Homo sapiens: one gene and its partners. The protein of the gene in region 3 purifies or fractionates together with the protein of the main gene of each other region. This does not show direct contact. Each region holds a gene or a part of one and is shown on either strand. Other genes may lie near its edges. The genes, in order: ALG14, GALNT2 and LRTM2.

What was found.
Region 1: the proteins of LRTM2 (region 3) and ALG14 purify together in Homo sapiens (affinity purification with mass spectrometry; one large-scale study listed by BioGRID and IntAct). This does not show direct contact.
Region 2: the proteins of LRTM2 (region 3) and GALNT2 purify together in Homo sapiens (affinity purification with mass spectrometry; one large-scale study listed by BioGRID and IntAct). This does not show direct contact.

The regions. Positions count from the first base shown.
Region 1 is NC_000001.11:95,062,877-95,066,525, forward strand, and holds part of ALG14 (UDP-N-acetylglucosamine transferase subunit ALG14), read right to left. Parts: intron 2,142-3,649; coding exon 1,990-2,141; intron 1-1,989. UniProt on the Homo sapiens protein: Part of the UDP-N-acetylglucosamine transferase complex that operates in the biosynthetic pathway of dolichol-linked oligosaccharides, the glycan precursors employed in protein asparagine (N)-glycosylation.
Region 2 is NC_000001.11:230,245,208-230,248,856, reverse strand, and holds part of GALNT2 (polypeptide N-acetylgalactosaminyltransferase 2 precursor), read right to left. Parts: intron 2,795-3,649; coding exon 2,707-2,794; intron 1-2,706. UniProt on the Homo sapiens protein: Catalyzes the initial reaction in O-linked oligosaccharide biosynthesis, the transfer of an N-acetyl-D-galactosamine residue to a serine or threonine residue on the protein receptor.
Region 3 is NC_000012.12:1,819,283-1,823,375, reverse strand, and holds the start of LRTM2 (leucine-rich repeat and transmembrane domain-containing protein 2 precursor), read right to left. Parts: upstream 2,812-4,093; 5' UTR 2,562-2,811; intron 1-2,561.

The DNA of each region.
Region 1 (3,649 bases), on a different chromosome or scaffold from region 3:
TATCTTCCACAATGGTTGAACTAATTTACATTCCCACCAATACTGTAAAAGCATTCCTTTTTCTCCACAACCTCACCAACATCTGTTGTTTCTGGACTTTTTAATAATCGCCATTCTGAGTGGTGTGAGATGGTATCTCATTGTGGTTTTGATTTGCGTTTCTCTAATGATCAGTGATGTTGAGCTTTCTTTCATATGTTTGTTGGCTGCATGAATGTCTTCTTTTGAGAAGTGTCTGTTCATGTCCTTTGCCCACTTTTTAATAACAGTTTTTTTCTTGTAAATTTGTTTAAGTTCCTTGTAGACTCTGTATATTAGACCTTTGTCAGATGGACATATTGCAAAAATTTTCTCCAATCCTGTAGGTTGTCTGTTCACTCTGATGAGTTTCTTTTGCTGTGCACAAGCTCTTTAGTTTAATTAGATCACATTTTTCAATTTTTACTTTTGTTGCAATTGCTTTTGGCATTTTCATCATAAAATCTTTGCCCATGCTGGTGTCCTGAATACTACTGCTTAGATTTTCTTCTAGGGTTTTTATAATTTTGGGTTTTACATTTATGTCTTTAATCCACCTTGAGTTAGTTTCTGTATAAAGTGTAAGGAAGGAATCCAGCTTCAATTTTCTGCATATGGCTAGCCAGTTCAACTCCTTGCAAAATAGAAAATTCTTTCCCCATTGTTCGTTTTTGTCAGGTTTGTAGATCAGATGGTTGTAAATGTGTGGTCTTATTTCTGAGTTCTCTATTCTGTTCCATTGGTCTGTATCTGTTTTTGTACAAGTATCACGCTGTTTTGGTTACTGTAGCCTTGTAGTATAGTTTGAAGTCAGGTAGCATGATGCCTCCAGCTTTGTTCTTTTTGCTTAGGATTGTCTTGGCTATTTGGGCTCCTTTTTGGTTCCATATGAATTTTAAAATAGTTTCTTATAATTCTGTGAAGAATGTAAATGGTGGTTTAATGGGAATAGCATTGAATCTATAAATTACTTTGGGCAGTATAGCCATTTCACAATATTGATTCTTCCTATCCATGAGCATGGAATGTATTTCCATTTGTTTGTGTCCTCTCTGATTTCACTGAGCAGTGGTTTGTAGCTCTCCTTGAAGAGGTCCTTCACTTCCCTTGTTAGCTATATTCCTAGGTATTTTATTCTTTTTGCAGTGATTGTGAATGGGAGTTCATTCATGATTTGGGTTTCGGCTTGCCTGTTGTTGGTGTATAGGAATGCTAGTGATTCTGCACATTGATTTTGTTTCCTGAGACTTGGCTAAAGTTGCTTATCAGCTTAAGAAGTTTTTGGGCTGAGACAATGGGATTTTCTAGATATAGGATCATGTCATCTGCAAGCAAGGATAATTTGACTTCCTCTCTCCCTATCTGAATACACTTCATTTCTTTCTCTTTCCTGATTGCCCTGGCCAGAACTTCCAATACTATGTTGAATAGGAGTGGTGAGAGAGGGCATCTTTGTCTCGTGCTAATTTTCAAGGGGAATGCTTCCAGCTTTTGTCCATTCAGTATGATATTGGCTCTGGGTTTGTCATATATGGCTCTTATTATTTTGAGGTATGTTCCTTCAATACCTAGATTATTGACAGTTTTTAACACGAAAGGATGTTGAATTTTATCAAAGGCCTTTTCTGTGTCTATTGAGATAATTACGTCGTTTTTGTCTTTAGTTCTGTTTATGTGATGAATTACATTTATTGATTTGCGTATGTTGAATCAACCTTGCATCCCGGGTATGAAGCCAACTTGATCATGGTGGATAAACTTTTTGATGTGCTAAGCAACCATTTTTTAATTTGAAGATTTATTTTATAGAAATTCATATCTTTTGGTAGCAAAGGAAATGTATTTCATCACCAGCAAACATTTGACTGCCCATTGTGGGTAGGGCACTGAAGTGCCATGAGATTATTACTAGAGACAATTAAACTCAATGTGCAACTTGTAATTTTCTTAGAAATAGAAATTGTCACTTACCATGTTACTAGGGTCTCTATCAGCTCGATCTAGTTCAAAAGAATTTATTTTATTGGCACTCATTTCATCAGTGTCAGCAATGACATAATGTCTAGGTGAGTAGGCATTGGACAAGCTCCCAAGCAGCCTCAGGATCTCAGTGGTATGCCCACCTGGAAAAAATATCAGAAGTCCTAAGATTAAGAAACCCACAATGGACATATCCATTTGACCATGTTATACCAATATCATGGTTTCAGGTTGGGGGTGGGGGGGCACTGTAATTGTATATTTCTCAGAAGACACAAGGAACATTTGAAAACAATAAATCTATGCCCTCGTATAAATACAACTTTTATATCAAAAGCAGATAATACATGTATAAAAATAAAATCAGCACTAGCAGTAGGTACTAAGGAAGGCACAAAACAGTATAAGACATAGCTCTTGCTATCAAGAAGACTGGTGAGAAAGGGGCAAGACACATATATGAAGACAAAGAAGATGCAAGACAGTAAGAAAAACTAAAATGTGAAGGGTAAGCAAATGGTTATGAAAAATCAATGCCTTAAAAATAAGGAAGAACCCCGGAAAAGGCTGAGATGACTTGAAAGGTGAAGATAATGGAGAGATAGGAGTAGGGAGGCCACTGGGTGGAGATGGGGATTGTTAGGGCATGAGATGACAAGATCTGAAACATGTGTTCAAAGAGTGATAGCAATACTGGGAAGAAGGGTACAGGTGAAATAAGGCACGAAAGCAGGATGGGAAAAGGGAAGCCAGTCACTGAAGGTTCTATGTAGAGAAGTAAGGTGAAGGGGGCATGAGCGCTGATCAGCAGGGCTTGGGCCTTCCTAAGAAACATCTTTTGTTCACCACTGTAACCCCAGCTCCTATGAGAGGTCTCAGCACACTGCAGGTCCTCAAATATTTATCAGCTTCACCAAATGAGTAATGTTCAGTTTCTGAAATAATATAATCTCCAAAATTTTAATACATTAATTTTGAAAGCATAAATTTAAAAATCAACTATGTTCATTGAGACAATGAAAACATTGTTTATGAAAACAACAATAGAATATCTACCTATCTATAAACGATTTAAGCACAACAGTCAAACTCCTTATCAAGGAGCCCTATCACACCCATTTCAGTCTCGTTTCACAAGCTCTCTGCCTCAGTCAGGTTGATGTCTTCAACATTCTCTGCATTCACCTTATTCGTTACTCACTCCTTGCCTCTGGTCATGCTGCTCCCCCTACCTACAAGGCTTCCTCCACCCCACCTCCCTTATTGTTGTAAGAAAGAGTATATAGTGATACAAGAACACAAACAAAGATAAATTAAACATGAGTTTTCCCCCAACACAAATTCCCTCCACCCCCTCACCTCCCCCCAGGTGGAGTTTCACGCTTGTTGCCCAGGCTGGAATACAATTGTGTGATCTCGGCTCATTGCAACCTCCACCTCCCAGGTTCAGGCGACTCTCCTGCCTCAGCCTCCCGAGTAGCTGCAATTACATGCGTGTGCCACCACGCCCGGCTAATTTTTGTATTTTTAGTAGAGACAGAGTTTCACCACATTAGTCAGACTGGTCTTGAACTCCTGACCTCAGGTGATCCACCCACTCGGCCTCCCAAAGTACTGGGATTACAGGCGTGAGCCACCATGCCAAGCCCAC
Region 2 (3,649 bases), on a different chromosome or scaffold from region 3:
GGCATGTCCAAGGGCTGTAAGGATGTGAGGAAAAAGAGCATCCAACATGAAAATCAAGCCGTGGTACCTCCAACACTGCCCCAGGGGAAGGCAATGCTGGGGAGGGAACGAGGCTTTGTCAGTTCCCTGGGCCAGCAAACTTCAGACTGTATTTGCAGCAAGAATGGAGTGGGAACATGCTGGGAATATGAAAACTTTAAGGGAAAATGAGCCAGCGGAAGTTGCCAAGCTGGGCAAATAAGCTTCAATTTCAGATATATTTGGCACCTGTTGCATTTCATTTTTGGAATCCACAGACCCCTGAGGATAGAAGAGCCTAGACCCTGTACCCGGACTTGGTTGTGGGCATCTGCAGGGCCTCAGGTCTCGCTCTTGCTCCCAGGGTCACACACATAGTGCCTCTTGGAGGCCAGCAGGCTCCACCTGCGGAAGCTGTCCTGGTGCATCAGGAGGCCACTTCTTGGCAAACACATGGCTCATGGTGCTGCATTTCCAATTCCAAGGGTCTGACAGCAAAACCTAATGACTCTAGGGCATGCATCTTTCAATCCTCTTAAGCTCTCTGCCATCAGGCTTTTTGTCAACAGGGCTTTTGCAATGCCTAAGTTTGGATTTGTCTGCATGCTTTGAATTCATAGTCTGTCCGCCCTGACAGCCCCAGTGACTGAAGGATGGCGGGTGAGGGTTTCTGAGTGTCCTGGGCTGGCCAAGAATTTATGGCTCTGGACAAAGAGGCCTCCCAGCTCCCTCACTGCAGGATAGAGTGGCCTCAGGCAAAGAGAGAGGGAAATGGACAGGGGCCCAGGCAGTGGGGACAGAAATGCACAGAGAGGAGACCCCTGCGGGCCCCTGAGCTGGCTCTTATCATGGTGCCTCAAAGGCCACGAAGGAAAACCAGAAAAACAATGTCCTGGCTGTTTCACTAACAGAGAAGGTTAAGGATTAGCTGACATAACCTTTCCTTTGTTTTTTTGATGTTTACTATTATCTTATTATTTATTTTATTAATTTGGTCCAAAGAGAGAGGCTATAGCAGATTAAAGATCTGTTAAGAATGGCATCCTTGATTTTTTTTCTAAAGGAATTTCATAAAATGCTCTTAGGGTGAACGTGGCCCCGTTCCTCTGACCCAGAAGACCTGCACCCCCACACGGAACACCTGGCTGTTCTTGCCCCTGCTCTGACATACGCAGCTGCTTTGGGAGAAATAGAGCCTGGTAGATCTCAGCTCTTCGAATACTTGGGGAAATACAACATTCTGAAAGCCAGGCTTTCTAGCTATCTAAGGATCCCTCCTCTTTAATGTCCCCAAACATTTTACTTCTCACCATTTGCTGGGAATCGTTCCTGAATGTTATGTTTCCCACCCTAGGTACAGTCCTCCAAGCATGCCCGCCCTCCCGCTGATGTCTAATTCCATTATGCCCTGTGTGGCCAGCACAATTATCATCCCATTTCCCAGAGGGGGAAGCTGAGAAGCAGAGGCAAAATGGCCTGCCCATGATGACGGGGCCTGCAAGAGGCAGGTGGGGCCAAAGCCCACAATGTCTAGGACCGTGGCTGAGTCTCCCTAAAAAGTCCAAGTATTCTGTTTTCTGGGGTTAAGGCTTGCTTGCACACATATGTGTGTGTGTATGAATAAGCAGGGTCTCACTCTGTCTCCCAGGGTTGATCGTGGCTCACTGCAGCCTTGACCTCCCAGGCTCAAGTGATCCTCCCACCTTAGCCCCGAGTAGCTGGCATGCCATCACACGCAGCTAATTTTTTTTTTTTTTTTTAATAGAGACAAGAGTCTTGTTATGTTGCCCAGGCTGGTCTTGAACTCCTGGGCTCAAGCAATCCTCCCACCTTAGCCTCCCCAAAGTGCTGGGATTATAAGCGTGAGCCACTGCACCTGGTCAAGGCCCTATTTTATAGTTTTACTGTCTTCTTTTTTGATGTTAGACCATCAGTTAACCCTCTGCCCAGTGTCTATCTAGAATAGTTCATCTTCACACAGATGAAAGCTCTTTGAGGTCTTTGATAATTTTTAAGAGGGTAAACAGACAAAGTGCTCTTGGGGCTCCAGGGTGGGTGCGGTGAGGACATACAGGAAACTGGTGTGGTCATTCCAACGGAAGGGGACCAGGGTGATGTAGGCACAGGTGTTGGGCTGGGAAAGAGGGGTACAAGAAACCATGATACATGCAAGGGGCTGTATCAGCAGAACAGGGTCACACGTGGGCTTGGTGAGGGCGAGGGGGTTGAGGATGACACAGGTCTCCATCTGAGCAACCAGAAAGAGACCAGGCTGTCAGAGAAATAGCCAGGGTGAGCAGAGAAGGCAAAGACAGGCTCCAGCCCCTTGAATCCCACAAAGCCTCAGCTCCGTGAAGCTTCTCACCCCAGATTCCTGCAAGGAGGGCTTCATCATCTCTGGTCATAAAGGACGCCATATCTGTTCATGGAACCACATGGCTCGCAAAAGTGACAGAAGGTCAAGGAAGAGGAGAAAGGGAAACCCAGGAAGCTCTTTAAGGGAGCAAGCCTATTTTTTTTTCTCTTTATGAAGTCCTACTCGTTAAGCACACAGGTGGTTTTTACTCAGAACACACACTACGGCGTGAACACTGTTGTCACTGTCACTCCTGACAATGAGAGGGAGTGGTGATCAGATGCTGGTGTAGACGGGACGAGCTAGGCAGGGGCACCATGACAGACACCTACCGCCCTTCAAGTCAGCAGATGCCCCCACATACTGAAAGTTGTCCATATTAATGACATCGATGATGGGTGACACAACCCGAGTCCTGTCCTAAAATACAAAGAGAGGAGTAGTTATCAAAATCCCAGCAAAACAAAAAACCTGCCCAACCACAGAAGGCATTAGTATTAGGCAGGCACAGGGCAAACCCAACTGGCCCTTACTACCTACTACCCTAGGCCCTCAAGAACCCAGCCTCCCCACCCAGACCCAGAAGGTCTTGCTCTTGGCCATCCACAGATGTGCTGTGGCCTGCTGGGAGGCAGGGAGGGAGGTCAGGAGTGGGTGCGTAGCAGGAGTCACTCTAGGAGTGGAGACACCCATGGTTATGGGACAGGTAGCCATCAGTTCACCCAGCTAAAGGCAAAAACTGTGTTGCTGTGTCCCAAGGGTCCTTTTCTGTTTGCCCAAATACCATTAGTGATTTGTGAGCTGCAGTAAACTTCAGGAATGGAGTCACTGCTAAAATGCTCATACATCAAAATTAGGAATATATTTCTATGTGGGAGTGTGTGTGTGTGAGAGAGATGTGGTAAGTATCAATATTATCACAGCAGAAGGTTAACCAAATCAACCAGAGATTTCCAGATTCTACGTTTGCCTCATCTGTAATTCTATCTTTTTTGTTTTTTTGTTTTGTTTTTTTTTTGAGACGGAGTTTCACTCTTGTTGCCCAGGCTGGAGTGCAATGGCGTGATCTTGGCTCACCACAACCGCCGCCTCGCGGGTTCAAGTGATTCTACTGCCTCAGCCTCCCAAGCAGCTGGGATTACAGATATGCACCACCACGCCCAGCTAATTTTTGTATTTTTAGTAGAGATGGGATTTCTCCATGTTGGTCAGGCTATTCTTGAACTTCTGACCTCAGGTGATCTGCCTGCCTCGGCCTCCCAAAGTGCTGGGATT
Region 3 (4,093 bases):
GCCTGGACCGCTCCATGCACCTGCCCCTTCCATTTCTCCTCAGATGGAGGTTAATTAATCAGTCTCAGACTCTAGCTAGAAACCTCCAGCACACTCACCACAGACCTGGTGTCCGCACCCTTCCTCTCAGGCTTCTGCGCATGTCTATCCCTCCACATCAAGCATCCAAGACACACAGCCAGATAATGCCCATCGGGCCTCCACCTCTGAATTCCTGACTCCTGGGCCATCACACTAGCCCTAGGGTGTGCCCACTCCCCTGGCATCTCCCCTTGGTCAAGAGTCCATACCCCTCAGCATGGAAGAGTCACAGAACTCAGGGGTAAAGGGGGCATTTGCAGCCTACTCTGCCGCCCCCTTCACTCTGCAGAAGGCCAGAGAGAAGCAGAGCCACGACTGGGCCCACACCCTGGGCCTGCAGGGGCCGTGCCCTTCCACCAACCCCAGGAAGGCTGAGAGGGAGCCCGGAGAGTGGCCAGCCAGAGCCCCGGGCCAAAGACGGCCCGAGATTCCATGTGGCCAGGACGCAGGGGAGGCTGCCACAGCCGTCTAGGCTGGGCTCCGCCTACCGCTGCCTGTCTGGGCACCCAGGCCCTCTAGGACAGCTGCCCATCACCCCCATCACACACACTGCCCAGGCAGCAAGGAACCAGGTTTTAAAAATCTCTATATTTGTACTTGGAACAGCCATATACCCTCCTGGTTCATTTTAAAACACATGCCCCATCCTCACCCCCAGCCTCCTGCACCCCCGTTTCCTTGTCAAATATTCTCAATCTCAAACAGACCCTCTGGGAAGCAGAACAGAGAAGCCTCCTGAGTGGCCCCTCATGGGAGCTGGTCCCTGACATGAAGGAGGCTAAGGTGTCCACTGGGCCCTGGGGCCGGGCTCAGGGTGGTGTCCCTGGGGCTGGGCTCAGGGTGGTATTCCCAGGCAGGGCACAGGAGGCTTGGCTGGGGGAAAAAGGAGGAAGACCAGAGGGGCAGACAGCCTCTATGCTGGCTCCTTTCTCCTCTGCCCACCCCCAGAACTCCCAGACACCCCCAACCATCACATACATGCCATCCCCTCCTCCTTCCTACACTGCCCACTGAGGCCATAGCAGCCCAGAGGCGGCCCCTGGGCTCTGGTGCCTGGGAAACGGGAGCAGAGTTTGCTCCTCGTGGGCCCAGACAAGCTTCTGTCAAACCCCAAAGACACCAGATCGGCTGCTTAAGCAGCCTCTCTCCTTACCCCTCCCCGCGGGCCTGGCTTTCCTGGTCTCCCTCTTTTGGCAGTGCTGAGACTTTCTTTCTGCCGGTGGGGAGGTGGGGGTGGGAAAAGCTGGGCTCTTCTTGGCAGCTCGGAAGCTGCTGTCGGGTTTCCCTACCAGCTGGACTTCCCCCGCCTCAGCTCCACGTGCTCGGCTCCCTCCCCGCCCCCACCTGAGGCAGTTATCTAAGCTGCAGGGGTGTCATCTGAGTCACAAAGAGACACTGCCCAAGTAGCCCTGACAGCCGGGTGCCAACACCCCCCAGAAATGTGGACAGCTTGGGGGTGGGGGAGAGACAGGGCCGCCAACTGGAACCCAGCCCCAGACCTGCAGGGAGGTGCAGGAATGTGAACTTCCGACTCCTGGTCAGGCTGCTCCTCTCTCCAGCACTGTCCAAATGGGTCTGGGGGATTGAGAGCAACTGTCCCGCTCTACTCAGGGTGTCCATGCCCCCTGTGTGGGTCAAGAAGCCAGGCAGGCCTGGCCCCGCTGTGTACCCCCCACCCAAGCTCAGTGTCCAGCCCCCACTAAGGCTCCCTGACCCATTTGCAGATGGACGGCTGGGTGCACAGCTGCGGGACACCCCAGCAGGTTCTCGCGGGCCTGGTTCTCCTGTCTTGCCCTTGGGCTAGCAGGGAAGGGCTGCGATACTTCTCTCTCCTGCCCACTCCCAGCCTCACCCTCACCAGGGAGGCTTCATGCACAGCTGAGTGGGCCCATGCTCATCTGGGGGAGGGTTCCTCCACACCCTTGTCCAAGGACAGCCACCTGCAGGCAAGCTATAGGGAGGCCCAGGACCTGGGTCTGTGCCCATGCCTCTGACATCCAGGACCTCCTCCCTGCCACCCTCCACCCCAAGCCTTCCTCTGACCTGGCCCTGTCCCCAGCACCTGACTGCCATCCCAACCGCTTCCCATGACCCCCGAGTTTCTTGGGGCTGTCTGTGCAGAGCCGGGCACAACGACAGCACAAGGCTCTTGGCTGCTTCTCCCATGCTGCAGGGACCGGTTTCTATGCCACCCGGGACTGTCATCTGGCGCCAGCGCTGCCCTCCTCCCCACTTCCCAGCAGAATCCACAGCTCTTGTCCCCAGCACTGTGGGCTCAGAGTTCCCAGTGTCGTGCACCTTTGGGATGCTCAGGTGCCTGAGCCCGAGCAGCTTCTTCGGCCCCAGCAATTGCCTGCAGGTAGGAAGCAACTGCAGCTATTCCTGCAGGGCAGAGATGGCCGGTGCCCACTTCCCATGCCCCGACCACCCCCTGTCCCCACCAACCCTCCATTCCTTCCTACCAGCCACTCGGTACTCACCCGTCTTTACTCTGACTGCAAACGCCTTCAATCAGGTGGCTCTCAACCCTCCAGTAAGACCCTCCTGGGATTCCTATAGAAATCCAGACACCACCGGCAGGCAGAGCGCAGTGGGCACTGGTGCCAGAGTCTCCACTCAGCGGGAGCAGCGGCTGGCACGCAGCACACAGCACCAGGAGGTGGACTGCTTGTGGCAGACGGGGGACGGGGCTGCTGGGTCAGTCACAAACTGAGAAGGAAAGAGAGGGATGGAGGGAGAGAGAGAGAGGAGAGAGGGAAGAAAGGGGCGAGGGAGGAGAGCGCACGCGTGTGCGCGAGCAGCGAGCCAGAGTGGAGCGGGGAGTGACAGCTGGGGTGCATCTGTGATGACAGCGGCAGCAGCACACACAGGCGCACACCAGAGGCACCACGGCCGGCCGCGAGGGCAGCGCTCACCCTGGCCACGCTCACATTTCAGTGGAAAAAGGCGCCTGTGGATGAATCGCTGCCGACCACAGGGAGGAGGAAAGCGGTTTCACCACCACCTCCATCTTCCATCCTGCGCCTCCAGGCTCTCCCTCACCCCCCCGGCTGCACCTGTCTTCTGTGCCTCTCTCCTCTCTTCCCCTCCATCTGGGGAAAGAGGGACAGGCGCAGACACAGAGCAAGCGGCTGACTTCTGTTCCGATGGAGGCCCCCCTGGGAAGCTGGTCTTTCTCCTGTTTTAGAGACATGCGAGGCAGAGTCTCCCATCCTGCCTGAGAGAAGGAAAAACCGAACCCTTCTCTCGGTCATACGAAAGAAGGGTACACAGGCATGTCCATGTGCCAGATGACCCTACAGGAAAGGGCCCTGAGCCCCCACAAAGCCAGGGATCACATGGTCATGCAGAGGTCACTGAGCCTCAGGGTCTGACCACCCGACGCCAGGACTACTTAGGGAAGCAGAATGCCAGAGTTGGCAGGCTGGGAGTTTGGGCACAGGGCAGCCTGCAGCAGCAGCCTGCAGACCGTTCTCAGTGCCAGGGACGAGCTTGGCTTCTCAGGGCTCCTTGCTCTTATCTGTGATGGGTCAGGCATGCGAAGGGAAGAGACTGTCATTCAAGAACTTGGAGGCCTCTTTCTTAACCAATCAGGACAAAGCAAGTCAGAAAAATTGATATCCTAAGAGATGGGAAGTGGCTGATCTGAAGGCCAAGTGAGTCAGGGACCAAGCTAGAGGGGAGCCAGGGCCCCACCAGCCTGGAGCACGAACCCTAAATCCCCCTTCCTTTGCGTCCACTGCCTGTAGACAGATGAAGCACCGTGCTAGCGATATATCACCGTGTCCTATGTCCCTCTTCCATTTTGCCTGCTTTGCTGGAGGGGTTCACAGCCAGGACTGGGGTGGGTGTAGAAGAACCCCCTGGACTCAGGATGCCCCTAGAAGGATGCTCCTGCTCACTCCCTTCTGTCCGTTCTGCCGGGTCCCCGGGCAGCACAAGGCTTGAGCTGCAGTGTCTTTTACCTCTGGGGAGTCCCGCCTCTGACCTCTCATGCTGGTGCCTCCCACAC